Linked DNA regions of Homo sapiens. The protein of the gene in region 2 purifies or fractionates together with the protein of the main gene of each other region. This does not show direct contact. Each region holds a gene or a part of one and is shown on either strand. Other genes may lie near its edges. The genes, in order: ANKHD1-EIF4EBP3, FGF3 and ZNF593.

The links.
Region 1: the proteins of FGF3 (region 2) and ANKHD1-EIF4EBP3 purify together in Homo sapiens (affinity purification with mass spectrometry, with the first as the bait; 2 studies listed by BioGRID). This does not show direct contact.
Region 3: the proteins of FGF3 (region 2) and ZNF593 purify together in Homo sapiens (affinity purification with mass spectrometry; 2 studies listed by BioGRID and IntAct, with this or other methods). This does not show direct contact.

What each region holds. Positions count from the first base shown.
Region 1 is NC_000005.10:140,523,833-140,527,465, reverse strand, and holds part of ANKHD1-EIF4EBP3 (ANKHD1-EIF4EBP3 protein), read right to left. Parts: intron 3,401-3,633; coding exon 3,226-3,400; intron 1,471-3,225; coding exon 1,023-1,470; intron 539-1,022; coding exon 392-538; intron 115-391; exon of another isoform or gene 38-114; intron 1-37. Other genes in the region: ANKHD1 (ankyrin repeat and KH domain-containing protein 1), read right to left, coding at 392-538, 1,023-1,470, 3,226-3,400. UniProt on the Homo sapiens protein: May play a role as a scaffolding protein that may be associated with the abnormal phenotype of leukemia cells. Isoform 2 may possess an antiapoptotic effect and protect cells during normal cell survival through its regulation of caspases.
Region 2 is NC_000011.10:69,817,303-69,821,057, reverse strand, and holds the start of FGF3 (fibroblast growth factor 3 precursor), read left to right. Parts: upstream 1-1,641; 5' UTR 1,642-2,124; coding exon 2,125-2,344; exon of another isoform or gene 2,345-2,350; intron 2,351-3,755. UniProt on the Homo sapiens protein: Plays an important role in the regulation of embryonic development, cell proliferation, and cell differentiation. Required for normal ear development.
Region 3 is NC_000001.11:26,168,298-26,171,418, forward strand, and holds ZNF593 (zinc finger protein 593), read left to right. Parts: upstream 1-1,610; 5' UTR 1,611-1,686; coding exon 1,687-1,886; exon of another isoform or gene 1,887-2,120; coding exon 2,121-2,183; exon of another isoform or gene 2,184-2,277; coding exon 2,278-2,419; 3' UTR 2,420-2,576; downstream 2,577-3,121. Other genes in the region: uncharacterized protein C1orf232, read right to left, coding at 119-202; transmembrane protein ZNF593OS, read right to left, coding at 2,892-3,038. UniProt on the Homo sapiens protein: Involved in pre-60S ribosomal particles maturation by promoting the nuclear export of the 60S ribosome. Negatively modulates the DNA binding activity of Oct-2 and therefore its transcriptional regulatory activity.

The DNA.
Region 1 (3,633 bases), on a different chromosome or scaffold from region 2:
CAACAGCTCATACTTAGCAATAAAAAATAAAGCCTCAGGTCAATGATGAGCTGACATGTATTCTGAATCTAAAGTTGATTATTAGTACTTTAGTTCTAGAATTACTGAGACATGAGAAAGAAAAAAAGCAAGAGAAAGCCTTTACATTTGAACTACATAAAAAGCAACTGAGGTTATCCAAAAAAGCCAAAATTTCTTGTGTCATATAAAATATGCATGCAAAATTTACATACTGCTTCTAATTTTGCTTTAGCATATTCTGGATTTAGTGTGGCAATGCAGTTTAAAATAATAACCACATTCAAATTATTCATTAATTAACTAGGTAGCCATCTCACATGAGAAAGGGAAAATATATGAAAGCTAAAAAGATGGAACTAATTCTATTTACCTTCGTACAACTTCTTTCCACCCTTCTTCTCTTTTCTGACCCCTTTTAGGGCTAGTGAGATTCAGCTTTATGTTTGGAGAGCTTAATGGCAATGACACTGTCTTGTAGCTGGTTGACAAGGAATTAGGAGTCACTTCACCTTCAAGTCTAAGAAGAGACAAATAGCAAGTACAATAAAAGATAAGTTTTAAGATAGAAACTCAAGAGACTATTCCTTTATAGCCAGAGTTACGCTGAAATATTCGTATTAAACTTTGGCACATCAAATAATCAATGAGTCAGAAAAACAGAAATAGAGCAAAGAACCCATCATTTATTTTAGTATTAAAATGGATTCAGATGCCAAAAATTAGACTATAATCAATAAAAATGACATAGATAAAATCAAAGCATGCAAATATTTTCAACTTCAGACTATGAATCCTATAAAAATTTCTAATAATCTCATTTCCTAACTAGCAAATGATAAAGAGGACATGGGTGAATTTCAGTTTTGAATATTGAAGATAGATAATGTGGTAGACTTCAATTGTTTAACACAACTTGTACTTGGATTAATATACTTCAAATTCTTGTACCAGGCATGAAGAAGGAAAGGTGCAGGTAGAGTTAACAAATCAGAAAAATTTACCGTGTCTGAGTTTTGGAAGTAGCAGTACTTGTCTTTTCTTCTTGGGAATGAAGGAGCAGTGAGGGGTATTTAGAGGAATTCACATCCATCACAAAATTTAACTCTTGGCTTTTACCACCACTGCTACTCTCACTGTTGCAGTCTGTGCTGTCCAAGTTATCTGAATCACTATTCCCACCTGCACCACCACCTCTAGGTTCTCCATTTATTTTATTTTTATCTGCCTTTTGTTGGGCTAAAGACATATGTTGTTCTGGTAAAATTAAATGTGCTGTAGGAGGGGTTTCTTTTGTTTTGTTCTTCTTATTTTTCCGATTGGTGCTGGGAGTTGTCACCACATTGGCCCTTTTTTTCCCAAACACATTTGTGAATGTTGCAGATGTTGCAGAGATTCCAATCGTAGTGGTGGTGGTTGCACTAGGAGGTTCTATGGGAACTTCTTGCTCCACTGAAATTGTTAAAAAGAATAAAAATCATACTGAGTCACAGATCTCAAAACAAATTCTGACAGAATATATTTGATAATTCATAATAATTCAGTGTTTTACATCATATTTTCCTTTCACCAGTATTCACTAAGAAATAAAGAAATCTTTTTTTTTTTTTTTTAGATGGAGTCTTGCTCTGTCGCCTAGGCTGGAATGCAGTGGTGCGATATTGGCTCACTGCAACCTCTGCCTCCTGGGTAGCTGGGACTACAGGCATGTGCCACCATGCCCGGCTAATTTTTGTACTTTTAGTAGAGACAGGGTTTCACCATGTTGGCCAGGCTGATCTCAAACTCCTGACCTCAAGATCCACCCGCCTCGGCCTCCCAAAGTGCGGGATTACAGGTGTGAGCCACTGCGCCCAGCTGAAATAAAGAAATCTTTTACTGTGGCCAGGTGCAGTGGCTCATGCCTGTAATTTCAGCACTGTGGGAGGCCAAGGCAGGTGGATTGATTACTTGAGCTCAAGAGTTCAAGATCTCCTGGGCAACATGGCGAAATCTTGTCTCTACAAAAAATACAAAAATTAGCTGGGGATGGTGGTGCATACCTGTGGTCCCTGCTACTGGGGAGGCTGGGGTGGGCGGATCACCTGAACCTGGGGGGCAGAGGTTGCAGTGAGCCGAGATTGCACCACTGCACTCCAGCCTGGGTGGCAGAGGGAGACCTCATCTCAAAAAAACACACAAAAAAAATCTTTGCTCTTGTTAGCCTAATAAATATTTACTATTATTTGTTGTTAGAACAAATATAAAATATATTTTCTTGTCTAAGGTGGTATAGGACACACATACTAGCAACATTCTTAATATTCTTTTTTTTCTTTTTATTTTTTTTTTGAGACAGAGTTTTGCTCCTGTCACCCAGGCTGGAGTGCAATGGCGTGAACTCGGCTCACCACCTCCGCCTCCCAGGTTCAAGCAATTCTCCTGCCTCAGCCTCCTGAGTAGGTGGGATTATAGGCATGTGCCACCACGCCTGTAATCCCAGGCTAATTTTGTAATTTTTTTTTTTTTTTAAGTAGAGACGGGGTTTCACCATATTGGTCAGGCTGGTCTCAAACTCCTGACCTCGTGATCCGCTCTCGGCCTCCCAAAGTGCTGGGATTACAGGTGTGAGCCATTGCACCCGGCCCAATATTCTTAATATTCTTAATTCTAGTCTCATGAACCCAAACCACAATATAATTTGAATTTAGGACATTTTTCAAATAGTATTTTAGAATTAGAATCCAAGTAGAACAAAATTATTTGCCTACTACAAGCACTGCCAGACAGTACAATAAATAACTCTTTGAGAGTACTAAACCCATCTCTACTGACATTTCAGGCCTCTATATCCTTGAGCCTGAATCTCAGCTAAAAGTAAACTGAGAAATTTTACTTCTAATCAGGAGAGGAAGAGTTAGAGAAGAATCTCAAAAAAAGGTGGCAAACTTCTCACTGTATTGCTTTTAGTATATATGCAGTGTTTTACAAGGTGACTTAAATTACAACTGAATTTATTCAAATTATGCGCTTGTTTTCCCTCTTGTTTCTCTGCATTAATTTACAATGCAAAACACTTACAAATATTTACTATAAAAGTCATTGTCCATTTCAGATTAATAAAGTAATCAAATGTTTAACTAGAGTTAACTAGAGCAAAGAGCACTCAAAATGAAGTTGATAAACAAAGGAGAATTTTATCGTTAATTCAGATGGTTTGTTTCTCACCATCTTCATCATTCTCCTCTTCATCTTCATCCTCTGGTAGTTCCGAATTCTCCTTAGGTTTGTTTTCTTCATCTTCTTCCTGTTTCCTTTTCTGTTCCTCTTTTTTCTTTTTTCTCTTTTCTTTTCTTTTTTCTCTTTTAGCAGCAAGAGCCTGCTTTCTGCTCTCTTCTCTTGACTGGAAATAAAGCAGGTATATAATTTTACCAATAAGGCAGTAATGTAAAATAAAGAATGAAATGATATTTTTATGATACACAGGGATTTCCATGGATGTTACTCTCAAAACACATTTATAAATGCCAACAAGAAAAAATAAACTGGACACCATCAAAATTAAAAACTTTTATACTTCAAAGGAATCATCAAGAAAGTAAAAAATCAGCTGGGCGTGGTGGCTCACACCTATAA
Region 2 (3,755 bases):
CCCCACCCCCGCCACTACATCTCCTCTCTTCTTGGCCAGGTGTCAGGAGGTAGCAGAGCTAAGGCATTTAGAGCAGCGACCTCCTTCCTGTGCCTCTTCCATGCCTCTTAGGGAGCCCAGGTGACCACACATCCCAGCCCAGGCCTGCACAGGGCTGCACTGGACAAGCTCTCCTCTTGCTGCTGTCCTTTGGGGCTTTCCTGTCACCAGCCTCTGACCCCTGTAACACAGTCTCCATCAAGAGTCTGAGGCTCCAGTAGTTCAGTGGCTGGCCTCTGGCCTGTTCAAGGACTCTCACAAGCTGGCCCTGGGGCAGCGGCTAGGAGACCCTGACTAAGACTGAGGTGCTCGGGGATGGCTTGGGGGCGCCCTCCTTCAGGATGGCCACCTGGACCCTGTGCACGCTGGAGTGGGCTCACAGAGGACACACTGCCCTGTGTGTATTGGGCCATGGGAGCTGGACACGTCCCAGGGGTGTGTGCTCACTGCCACAGCTCATGGTGCCCTGCACACTTGCCTGACCCCAAACCCTGATGCAGATGGCAGGCTGGGGAATGTCAGCCCACCCAACTCACCCCAGAGCCCCTGGTCAACTTGGAGCCAAAGCTGTGGCCTAGACCCCTGGACTCCACAGCGTGCCCTCCTCTGGGGCAGGGTTGAGAGAAGCAAATCCCCTGTGCTGGCCCCTGCTTCCTGCTGGCCCCAGGACCCTGGGGGACAGAGGACCAGGAAGCAAGAGAAATGGGTGGGGACATGGCTTTTCCCGATACTTTTTGAAGCCCCTCTTCACTGGGCCCCCTGAGATACACCTTGACCCCCACACAGTCCAGGGGACCACCTGGGCATCTGCACTGATTCAGATCCTCCAGGCCAGGACTCCCCCACACCCATTCCCAGCTTCTACCGGGTTCCTCTTGTCATCACCCACCCGCTGTGGCTACCAGACTCCCTGTGCTTTTCTCTGGGTGTTCTCCGCGGCTCTGTCTTCTTTCCATCTCCCCTGCCTCCTCTTTTTGGCGATCTCTGTCATTCACATTTTCCATGTCTTTCCCGTCCTTTCCTCCTCCGTTTCTGTCTGTCTCTATCTGCATCTCTTTCTCTCTAGGGCTCTCTGTCGGCGCCCACTTCTCTGGCTCTCGCGTCCCTCCTCCCGCCTCCCCAGGCCCCTCTCTGGACCGTCACTGGGACGGGATCCTCCGAGGCCTGCCAGACGAGAGCTAACCCCACCACTCCGGGTGCCCAGTTGGTGTGCGCAAAAGGAGATAGCATCTCCAGACCCGGCCTGCCCCGCGCCTTGCAAGGCTGAGGACAGCGCCACTGCTCCTGCAGGAAGCGCCGGGCGCAGACACAAACCCGGAGCTCCCCACGCGTGCCCGCGCCCCGGAGCCTCCCTGCCGCCGCCCTCCGCGGTCCCCTTCATTATGCGCCGCCTTTAATGGGCGTTTGTCAGCTCGACTTCCCCGCAAGTTGTTTTCACGGACATCAGTCATCGGCGGCGGCCCCATTGTGCAGGGGGATTGATGGGGAGCGGGAGGGGGTGACAGGGCCTGGGGCGGCCTCCTCAAGGCCTCGGTCTATAATTTTCGGAGGCATAATTGGTCTGGGGGAGGGGGCGGGGGAGGGGCGGGTAGGGGACCTTTCAGAGCCAGGAGGGCTTTCGGGGGCGTGGGGCGCGCTGCGGAGCGGAGCCGCGGCTCGACGGCGGTGCGCTGGCGGCGAGTGTATGCAGACGGCGCCCGGCCCGAACCCCGAGCCCCGCGGGGCTCCCCACCCGCCGGCCTCCCGCCCCTCCCGCGCCTCCGCCTGGGGACCACGTCGGCCTTTTGTTGGCGAACCGTCCTTTCTTTCAGCGCTTTGCGCAGCAACGGAAATTTCATTGCTCCTGGGTGGAAATTAAAGGGACTCGCGTTCCCTCTCTCCCTCTCCCTCTCCCACTCTCCCTCTCTTTCTCTCTCTCGCCCACCCTTCCCCCTTCTTCCCCCACCTTTCCCGCGAAGCCGGAGTCAGCATCTCCAGGCGCGGGATCCCGCTCCGAGCACCTCGCAGCTGTCCGGCTGCCGCCCCTTCCATGGGCGCCGCGCTCGCCTGCAGCCGCCGCCGCCGCGGGGCGGGCGCGATGCCACGATGGGCCTAATCTGGCTGCTACTGCTCAGCCTGCTGGAGCCCGGCTGGCCCGCAGCGGGCCCTGGGGCGCGGTTGCGGCGCGATGCGGGCGGCCGTGGCGGCGTCTACGAGCACCTTGGCGGGGCGCCCCGGCGCCGCAAGCTCTACTGCGCCACGAAGTACCACCTCCAGCTGCACCCGAGCGGCCGCGTCAACGGCAGCCTGGAGAACAGCGCCTACAGTGAGTGCCGGACGCTGCGGGGCCCCGGGGGAAGCGGCGCCGGGAGGGGTCGGGCCCGGGAGAAGGCGCGCTGCGGGGCCCCGCGGGGGAGGCGGCGCCGGGGAGGGGTCTGGCCCGGGAGAAGGCATGGTGCGCCCGGGGTGTCCGGGAAAAGACCGTCTGCCTCCCGCTGCCAGAAGGGGAATGCCAGGGTGCCCTCCTCAACCTACACGTCCGGGAGAAGAGCGCGCGCTGGGGTTCGAGCAGAACTCGGGGGCATGGGCGTTCACGTCCGAAGAGGGCGCCGGCGGCTGTCAGAGTCCGTCCCCGGTCCGGCCCGCTGGTCTGAGGGGACGCGAGCTAGGCGACCCCGGGGCTCCAGGCTCTGCTGCTTTGGGCAGCTCTGACAAGTTTAAGCCCTTTGAATGTGTCGGAGAAAAGGAGCCGGACAAGGCATTTATCATCCTCTTTATTATTTTGACGACTTCTCCTCCTCCTGCCGACCCCTGGACGCCCCGCCGTCCCCTCCGCCCTCCCCGCTCGCGGCTGCCCAGGTGGCCGCCCCCGCTGCTGCCTCTGCGCGGAGGACTCTTGCCCTGCGGAGCTCGGTTCCCTGGCCGCGGCCGCCACCGACAGTTATTCCCCGCGCTGGAATCTGCACCTCCCCCGCCTCCGCCCTGGCCGCACAGCGACAGGAGGGTGGAGGCCCTCGCCGTCGGGACGTGCGGATCACGAGCGCGGAACGGTGTCCGCCCGGGCCTGGGGGTGCAGACACACACACTCCGGCCCCCGCACGCAGGACCCGCGGCCCGGGCTGCGCTCACCGCGGGAGTCTGCCGGACTACACGGTTGGGCTCCTCTGGTCACAGGGACCTGAGGCCCGCGCCGAGCCCTTTGAGGAGCAGGATAGCGGAGCTCAGGGCCCGGGAGGACCGCGTGGGGAGCGTGGGAGGGCAGTCAAGACCACAGCTGTCCTCGGGTGCTCCGCGCGGCGCTCGGCTCCGGCCCCGGGCGCAGGAAGCGGTTCCGCCGCTTGAAGGTGGCGGCGGCGGCCTCAGCAAACCGCGGCTTCCTCCAGGAAAGCCGCAGCCCTGAGAGGGCGTCCTGGGGACATGCGCCTCCGGAGCCGCACGGTGGGCACCAGCTGTCACCAGGGGGTCCGAGTGCGCGGAATTCGTCTCACTAAGACACTCCGGTTCTCTCCAAAGCCAGGCTCCCCCTCGGAGTCGCACAGCATCCAAACTTCTTGGTGTAGGCTGCTCACGGGGAGGGGAGGGCGCGCGCCCGCAGCCGCCCCTGTCCTGCGTCGAGACTCGTGCTTCGCTGGTCCCCGGTCAGGCACCGCCGATGCCGCCCAGCCTGCGCACTGGGAAGGCGGGAGGCTCGCAGCCTGCACCACAGCACCCCTGGGCTGGAGCAAAAGCCCGGTGGT
Region 3 (3,121 bases), on a different chromosome or scaffold from region 2:
GGCATCTGCACAAATGTGGCCCCCCCACCTCCAAGCCTATCCTGTGCCCCACTTCATACTGCTCATTCCTGCTGCCCCTCTGCACATGCTCCACCCACCATGCATGGATGGCACCCACCTCCTCTGCCAGGTCTTCTTCAGATTCCCCACTCAGGGTCTGTAGCACTTTGGACTTGTAGGTTTTCCAGAAGGCCTGGTTCATGGCTGCAGGGGGAAGGGGCCTGGCACGCAAGCACAGGAAGGTGGTGGCTCAGTGGATACCAGTGAGTCTGGCTCTAGGAACTTGGTGAGGCCAAGAGCCTGTCCGAGGGATCCAGTGACTTCATTAAAGATGCACCAGCCTCCCCAGCTGGCACAGTGCCCAGGAGGTGAACCTGATCCAAAGGAGTCGGGGAGTGGGGGATGGAACAAGCTTCTGCCACCTTAGCCCCTTGTCTTGACCCATATTGGCCAAGAATAATGAAGTCATTTGTCTCTAGAGAGGCTTTCTTCCTGGGCCTAGGAGTACTTGAGTTGTTCATCTCTTAGCATGCCTCCAGGAAAATCTTCTTCCATTCACAAAATCCTGAGGTCTGGGACCCACACTGGAGCCCCTGTGACTGTAGTCATACTAGTTGTGTCCTCAGCAGGGCTCCACCCTGTGTCCCTACTTAGCCTCAATGAACTGGAGCAGGAAGGTCCGCAGGCCCCCAGTGGGCACCTTGGGCTTACATTTCACTCCTTTGTCTGGGCTGGAAACTGATTCCTCTCCCCAGGGATACACGTGCCTGTCTCCTTGTTTCCTGGCAACAGACTCCAAAGAGCTGGAGCCCCTGAATTATTGCTAAGCTCCTCTGGCCCCTTCCAGCTGAGTTGGCTCTGGCCAGCCTGGGAGGCACCAGGCTCCTGTGAATGGGGAAAGGCCCTCTAGCCACTCTGAGCATGCAACACCTAGGCCTTTGCTGCCAGCCCACCTCTGGGAGCCCAGGGCTTAGAGAAAGGAGGCAAAGATGGAGAGGTCCTTCTATGAGTACTTGTGAGAGGAACTGATCCCTCTGGAGTCTGGATGCCTGAGGACTGCACTCTCTGGGGAGGAACACCCTTCACGGATTTGGTTGGGGTCAGAGAGAGGATGGAGACTCAAGGGAATAACGGGAGCCCGGAGAAGTGAGGGCTTTTTCAGGGACTGGAGATTATCTCGGGAAGCCCTGGTGGGGCTGGGATTCCAAACTTATTCACTCTCAGTCATTTACTAATTTATTCATGACACAGACATTTATCAGTGCTTTCCAGAGATAAAGCATCCCACCCCCACCGCGGAGTCCAAGGTCTGGGAAACAGGAAGGGATGACAGGAGTACAGGTTGGCACTGATACTGGTTGGACCAGGCCAGGAAGAGCAGGGCAGCAAGACGGCCCCGAAACCCCCAGGCGCACGCACCACCCCGCGCCTCCCCAGCGAGGGCCCGCGGGGCCATGCCCTTCAGTGGGCACACTTCTGGGAGCCCGTCCTGAGCTCGGTCACTGACGTCGACGGCCGCCTGGCGGCGCTCGAGCCGCTGGCCGAGAGTGACGTCATCAGAGGCGGTCCGGCCGAGCCTGCCTAGCCCCCCGGCGTGGCCTGACGTAGCTGATCGGCCCGGAAGTGCTCACACGTGTGCTCCCTGCCCTGCTCCTGGCCCCTTGGCCGGCCGGGCTGTTTCTGGCCATGGGTCGCTCCCGCCGGACAGGCGCGCACCGAGCGCACTCTCTAGCCCGGCAGATGAAGGCGAAGCGGCGGCGGCCGGACTTGGATGAGATTCACCGCGAGCTGCGGCCTCAGGGATCCGCACGACCCCAGCCCGACCCAAACGCCGAGTTCGACCCCGACCTGCCAGGGGGCGGTCTGCACCGCTGTCTGGCCTGCGCGTGAGTCCCGGACGAGCCCGGCCTGGGGCGGAGGAGGGTCCGCGGTACCGGCCGGGAGATGTGAAGTTGAAGCCCCAGGCAGCGCAGAGTCTTCTCTCTTGGGACCCGTGGGTCCGCCCGCCTCCCGTTTCTCAGACCCGGATCCTGGCGTCAGGGACAAGCTAGGGCTAGGGAGATAGGTGCACTTGGGAGACTATCACCTCCTCACTCTCCTTCTCACTTCCATTCCTACAGGAGGTACTTCATCGATTCCACCAACCTGAAGACCCACTTCCGATCCAAAGACCACAAGAAAAGGTATGAAGGAGTAAGGAGAGGATTGATGGATGGGTGCTCAGCAGATAGGGCTCTCACCTGGTCAGCTCCCAACTCCTGTTTTTCTTTCTCCCAGGCTGAAGCAGCTGAGCGTCGAGCCCTACAGTCAGGAAGAGGCGGAGAGGGCAGCGGGTATGGGATCCTATGTGCCCCCCAGGCGGCTGGCAGTGCCCACGGAAGTGTCCACTGAGGTCCCTGAGATGGATACCTCTACCTGACATGGCCTGAAGATGCAGGGCAGAGGAATTGCCCATGGACAGTGACGCAAGGACTAGGCTGGGAGGGAGCGTGCCAACCCCTTTTGCCTCTGGGTTTGGGGAGCGGAGGGCCTCTTCTTGGTGCCCTGCCCCAAATAAAGGAACTGGACAAAGAGAACTTGCCTCCAACTCTAACTTCCAGGCCGCTGTCTCAAACTCCTGCCCTGGAAGGGCTTCTCTACTACTTTCTGTACACCAGGCCTAGGGTGTCTACTCCCCACTTGGTCTATCTCTGCCTTCCCTCTGAGGTCCTAGCATCTGAACTGGAGCACCCAGATGGAGGCCTGATGCAGTGTGGGGTGGCGGGAGTGGGATCAGATTACTCTGTCCTGCTTCTGACAGAGACTGATCCCCAGAAAAGAAGGCTTCTGAGATTGCACCCCCCTCCCGAGTCACCTACCCCCAGCATCCAAGTGAGAGTCTCTCTTCTTCGTTACGGGGCCCGTGGCACCCGCCGCTGCCCCACCATCTTCCAGACGGCATAGCAGGAGCCACCCAGGCCGAGGACAGCTAGCACTGTAGCCACAACTCCTGCCAGCAGACTCCGGGGCTCTGCCTTCAGCTCACCAGCTACCTGCATCTGGAGGTGCACAGAGGGTGTGCCTCAGGGGTCAGTTGAGACTGCCAGGAAGGTGGGGAGTGGGAAAGGGCTGAGTAGATGTA